Homo sapiens: one gene and its partner. The protein of the gene in region 1 purifies or fractionates together with the protein of each later gene. This does not show direct contact. Each region holds a gene or a part of one and is shown on either strand. Other genes may lie near its edges.

The links. Proteins that work in one complex are often made in the same cells at the same time.
Region 2: the proteins of ASB2 (region 1) and SPINDOC purify together in Homo sapiens (affinity purification with mass spectrometry, with the first as the bait; one large-scale study listed by BioGRID). This does not show direct contact.

Annotation. Positions count from the first base shown.
Region 1 is NC_000014.9:93,966,571-93,970,070, reverse strand, and holds part of ASB2 (ankyrin repeat and SOCS box protein 2), read left to right. Parts: intron 1-100; exon of another isoform or gene 101-151; intron 152-3,500. UniProt on the Homo sapiens protein: Substrate-recognition component of a SCF-like ECS (Elongin-Cullin-SOCS-box protein) E3 ubiquitin-protein ligase complex which mediates the ubiquitination and subsequent proteasomal degradation of target proteins.
Region 2 is NC_000011.10:63,823,456-63,825,835, forward strand, and holds part of SPINDOC (spindlin interactor and repressor of chromatin-binding protein), read left to right. Parts: exon of another isoform or gene 1-2,192; intron 2,193-2,380. UniProt on the Homo sapiens protein: Chromatin protein that stabilizes SPIN1 and enhances its association with histone H3 trimethylated at both 'Lys-4' and 'Lys-9' (H3K4me3K9me3).

The DNA.
Region 1 (3,500 bases):
GAGAGGGGAAGGTACTAGGAGGAAAAGACCACTTTTTAAATGCAATTTTGGTCCTCACTATAACCCTGCCAGGGTCCATGTCTCTTTTCCCATTTCACAGATGTGGAGACTAAGGCCCAACTTAGAAGAGAGCCGGCTGTGAATGAACCAGGTACTGCTCTGAGTGGATTTGCCTGAGTAATTTACGTGGATTAACCTAAGTAACCCTGTCACAGCCACTTTACAGATGTCACCTGGGGAAAGATGGGGCTTCTCAAGAACCAATGTTTGGGGTTCTGCAAAGAGGGCAGGAGAGGCACTCCTGAAGGCCCTGCGGGGCCAGGCCTCCCTTGCTCCACACTGGCCTTGGACTGGCCCCTCCCTCTACCAGGAAGCCTCCCTGATGGCTGGGCAAGGCCTATTAGACTCCTGCTTTCCTTGGGAAAGGGCTATTTTTGATTCCAATCAGCCTCCCAGAGTGTCCCTTGAGGCTGCTGGCCTCCCTCCAAGACTTAGGCCCAGAAGGCCGCCCAACCCCCAGACAGAGGTCTCAGAAATCAAGCTGGGCAGCATCTTCATGACAAGGGGAAACTGAGGTCCAAAGAGGGGCAAGGCATCACCCGAATCAATGCCCTCTCCCAAGAGATAGGTGCTCTGACCTTGTCCATTTTACAGATGGAGAAACTACTATTCCAGAGGCTCTCCCGGCTAACAACCAGCAAAGCTGGGATGTGAACTCAGTCAGGCTGGCTCCACACGCTGCTTCATAACTTCCCCCTCGTGCCAGGGCTGAGCAGCACCACCTGTCCCCCAGGAGACGCCGCCATAGCATCCCTGACAGCTGTCACCAGCCTACGACTGCATCCGTTCAGGGACAGGGAGTTTCCTGTCCTGAAGCGGCCCGTGCATTGCACACTTACTAACAGCCAGACCCACAGCTGAGCCTGTACACACATGAACCCTTTTGACTCTACCACCAACCCCATAATAACACTGGCTAATATCTCCATTTTGTGCATTTTATCCATTTTACCCATAAAGGTGGGTAACTTACCCAAGAACCCTTGAAGGCTGAGGACCTCAGTGGGAAAAGCAAGAGATATGTGGGTCCACAGTGGGGTAGGAAATTTGCCTCTTCAAAGGCAGAGTCCCTCTCTCTCAAGTAAACTCCATAACAGCTGTGCTTCCAAGGGTTTGAGCACTGTTGTGGTCCTATCATTCACCTGTCCATCTAGCATTTATTAAATACCTTTTGTGTACCCAGCCTTGGGTTAGGTCCTGGGGTTACGAGTATGACATAGTCCTGCTCCTCAGAAGTTTCCAGACTTTCTAGGGAGACAGGCCTCTAGCAGGTAGTCCAAGGAGTAGACTTTCTCAAGGTCCTGTCAAGGTTAAACCCTTCTCCTCCCTCTGCGTGTACCCTCCATGCAGCAGGCAAAGAGGCTGGTATGGTGCCCAGGGCACAGATATAGGCCAGGGGGTGCTGGGCAGCTGGGAGGATAGCTGGCTGCAGCTGGATGAGGACAGATCTGCTCCAAACCCATGTGTGTGTCAGTTGCTTGGGTCAGTGTTCCTGGAATTGCCAGAAAGAGCATTGGATTTGAGGTTGGAAGATCAGGCTTCAAATCCCAGCTTTCTATATGTCTCTCCTCCTATAAACCCTTCCCCTCCCGCTCTAAACCTTACCTGCCTCATCTGTAGAATGGGACCAATAACGTATGCGCATCAGGGTCCTTTTGGAAGGAGAGGGGCTGTAGAGGAATTAAGTTAATTCAGTGAAAATCTTCCTACCTTCCAGGGCTGTGTGAGGTAATGACATGGATAATTGGCCAATGTAAAGTCTCTGAGTGGTGTCAACCCATGGGAGAGGCTTGGGAAGGGCCTGGTAAGTCTGGAATTAGCTTCGGGATTGGTGATTCTGGGTGACCATTACCTGGCTGCCTTCGCCTCCAGGAAGGCACATGGTCAGGGAAGGGCCACTGCAGCCATGTGCTGTCTATGAGTCTCTGGCCCATACCAGGCTGCAGGGCCAGCAGCTGCCTGGAGATGATGAGGGGTCCCCACGAAATAATCATGTTACCCCTTACAAGCTGCCTACACATCTTAGCTCACATATGCTTCTACAGCATAGCGAAGTAGCTTATCTCCTTCCCATTTTTATTAATAAAGGAACTGAGGCCCAGAAAAGGGGAAGTGACCTGCCCCAGGTCATATAGCTAGTAAGTTGCAGAATTGAAAGTAGACTTAGGGGTCCTGACCTCCAGACTCAAGATCCCTCCACTCCCCCCGGGTTTTCTGTTCCCCCATGGCCAATACTAACCTCTTTTTGTCGACACGGCCATAGGGGATCCCCAGGGACAGAGAATTTGAGGTTTAATAGCACAGAGCCAAACCAAACGTCTCGCTGAGTTGCAGACTCTTTAGAACTGAAAAATCTGCGGAAAACTTCCAGCCCCAAATCGTCCTTTTGCAATGAGGAAACTGAGGCCCAGAGTAGGACAGGGACTTAGCTGAGGTCACAAAGCACTTTGGCCTTAGCAGGGCAATTATAGCTCAGCCTATGACTCTTAGTGCAGTGCTCTTCCCCCTTGTGCCCTGGCTTTGAGCAGACACCTTTAGATGGTGGCACCAGGATGCCAGGCCAGGTCCTGGGCACCAGCACTTCCTGCTAGTTCAGCACCATGTGCACTGAGCCCCTACCTTGCACCAGGCGGTGGGGTATGTAAAGCCAGACCAGCTTTAGAGAAGAGAAGGGTGTCATACCTCACTGGGCAGAGCCCCTTCCCCCCGCCACTGAAGGCAGACCTGGGCCAACTCAGACCTGGCAGGGACCCCAGCCTCAGAGAAGCAACAAAGGAGTGGGAAGCCAGGCCTGGGCCAGCTGGAGATGGGGGCTCCACCCAGCTGCACAGGTACCTCCTGCCAGTACAAGGGCCAGAGGACAGGCTCTAGTCTACCCTGCCATTTAACAGATGGAAAAACTGAGGACACAAGAGAGGAAGAGAGGCGCTCATGGCTGACTTGGGACAGAAACCCAAGTCCCTTGGTTCCCTGTCCTGGGCTCCTTTCACAATAAATAAAACTGCTGCTACTGCTGTAAATAACAGCACTCCAAGCATCGGGCATAAAATGATTGTGAGGTCATGACCCTTCCCCTCCTCTAGTGTGGACCACAGACTGGCCACCTGACATATTAATCTCATTGAGCAGGGGTTCTCAACTCTGGCCACACACTAACATCACCAGAGAAGCCTCTAGCATTGCATTCCCTGGGTCCCAGCCCTGAGGCTTTGAGTTCATTGATTCAGGGCTGAACCAGGTCCTTGACATGTTTTCAAGACTCTCAGCCAGGCCTGAGAGACATTCGTTAAGATGATTTGACTGCCTATAAGAGAAAACCCAACTAACATTGGCTAAACCACAAGAATCTTCAGTACCTAACAAGTAGGCTAGGGTGGGCGGACCCAGCATTGGTTCAGCAGTTCTGCAACATAATGAAGGACCCAGAAAAACTATTATTC
Region 2 (2,380 bases), on another chromosome or scaffold:
GTAGTCCAGGAAGACTCTAGAACCTTCTGAGGACCTTGCCAGAGGAGGATGGGGAGAGTGTGCAGGCCAGGAGAGGAGGTGGGCCACAATGACCCACTGACAAGTAATGGAAAGAGGAGCCTCTCTGTCTTGCTGGTGTTTTTCTTTTTTTTATTTTGGAGATGGAGTCTCGCTCTGTCGCCCAGGCTGGAGTGCAGTGGCGTGATCTTGGCTCACTGCAAGCTCCGCCTCCTCCCAGGTTCACACCATTCTTCTGCCTCAGCCTCCCAAGGAGCTGGGACTACAGGCGCCCACCACCACACCTGGCTAATTTTTTGTATTTTTAGTAGAGACGGGGTTTCACTGTGTTAGCCAGGATGGTCTCGATCTCCTGACCTCGTGATCTGCCCGCCTCAACCTCCCAAAATGCTGGGATTACAGGCGTGAGCCACTGCACCTGGCCTGTTTTTCTTTTTCTTTTTTTTTTTTGGAGATGGAGTTTTGCTCTTGTCGCCCAGGCTGGAGTGCAGTGGTGCAATCTTGGCTCACTGCAACCTCCGCCTCCCAAGTTCAAGCGATTCTCCTTCCTCAGCCTCCTGAGTAGCTGGGATTACAGGCGTGCGCCACCACGCCTGGCTAATTTTTTTGTATTATTAGTAGAGATGGCGTCTCACCCTATTGGCCAGGCTAGTCTCAAACTCCTGACCTCGGGTGATCCGCCCACCTCGGCCTCCCAAAGTGCTGGGATTACAGGCATGAGCCACTGCACCTGGCCGGTCCTTCTCTTTATGATCTCGTGGTTACGGTGGGCTGATCACTCACTCCTTCCTGGAGACAACTTTCTTCCCTTGGCTTTTCAGGCAGCTGCTCGCCTGGTGTTCCTCTTCCCTCACTAACTGTTCCTTCTCAGTTTCTCTTGCCGCTCACTCTCAGCTCCCAGAGTTGGAACACGTCGTATCATTGTCTGCCTTTCCCTTTCTAGAATGTAAGGGCCTGCAGGTTAGGGTGTTTGCGTCCTGCACTATAATATCTGCGGTAACCAGAACAGTGCCTGGCACAGCGTAGGCCCGGCTTATGTGTTTGGTGAATGAGTACGTGCTTAAGTATCCGCAGCCGTGGGTCAGTGTCGGTACTCGCTCCCTGGGAGATCTCATCCAGGTTCACAGCTTTCAATGACATGTGTGTGCTCATAATGCCCACCTTGGCTGCTCCTTCCTGGTTCCATCCTCTTTTCCAGTTGCCCAGGTGGCGTCTCTACATGGGTGTCTAAAAGATCTCAAACATTGTGCCACCGCACTCCAGCCTGGCGACAGAGCGAGACTCCATCTCAAAAAAAAAAAAAAATCTCAAACTCGCCACATTGAAACTGAACCCCCAGTCTCACCAATGCACCCTACCCCTAGACTCCACAATCTTCCCTTTCCCAGTGAACAGGCAGCCCCAGGCTTCAGTTTGCTGTGACCACACCCACACAGTCATCCTCTTCTTTCTCCAGCCCAGCATCTGTCCAGCAGCCGATCCTCCAAAACAAGTTCAGAGCTCACACTGCTGTCACCACATCCACTGCTGCTACCCTAGTCAGGGCCGGCTCTCGCCTGGTTCCTGTAACAAACCTAAGCCAGGTCTCCTGGCTGCTGAGCTTTGCCCGCTATGCTCTGCTCTCCTGTAGCAGCCAGAGTGTCCCTGCTGAGAACACAAGTCAGATCCAGTCACTCCTCTACTCATGGCCTTTCTGTGCTGCTCCTGTTGCACTCCAGATAAAAGCCAGAGCCTTCATGGTGACTAGTGAGCTCCCCACAGGCTCCTGACCTCTCCCCCCACATCCCGCTCCCCGCACAGGCACTGGCCTTGCTGTTCCTGGGGAAGCCAGCGTGCTCCACCAGGGCATCCACATTTGCTCCTCCCTCTGCTCAAAATGCTGTTCCCTCCCTGTCTGCCTCACTGGCTCCTCACTCCCTCTGTGTCTGTGGTCCCCTGTCAGCTTTCTGCTATCCTATTATCCTATCTCCTTTCCCTGGTGTACTTTGCTACTTTGCATCTGTCCATATATAACATACTGCATTTTTTATTTGTTTATCCTATTTATTAGCTCTGATAAATAGAATGTGAAGTCCCAGAAGGCCACTTAGGGAGCTCCATTCACCGCTGTACCCCTAGCAATCCAAACGGCATTGGGCATATAGTACTCAATAAATTATTGTCAAATTAATGAACAAATGGGGTTCAGTGTTCCTTCAGGGAGCCTATAGTTTATCAGGGAGACAAACTGTGTTCTGGGAACACAGAATAGCATTTGGTAGGTGATAAAAATGGGGTGGCAGCCACTAAGTCATTTTAAATTCCAGCACATCGCACAGCAAAATTGTACCTGTTTTCTGTGCCACATTTTAAATAATCGTGT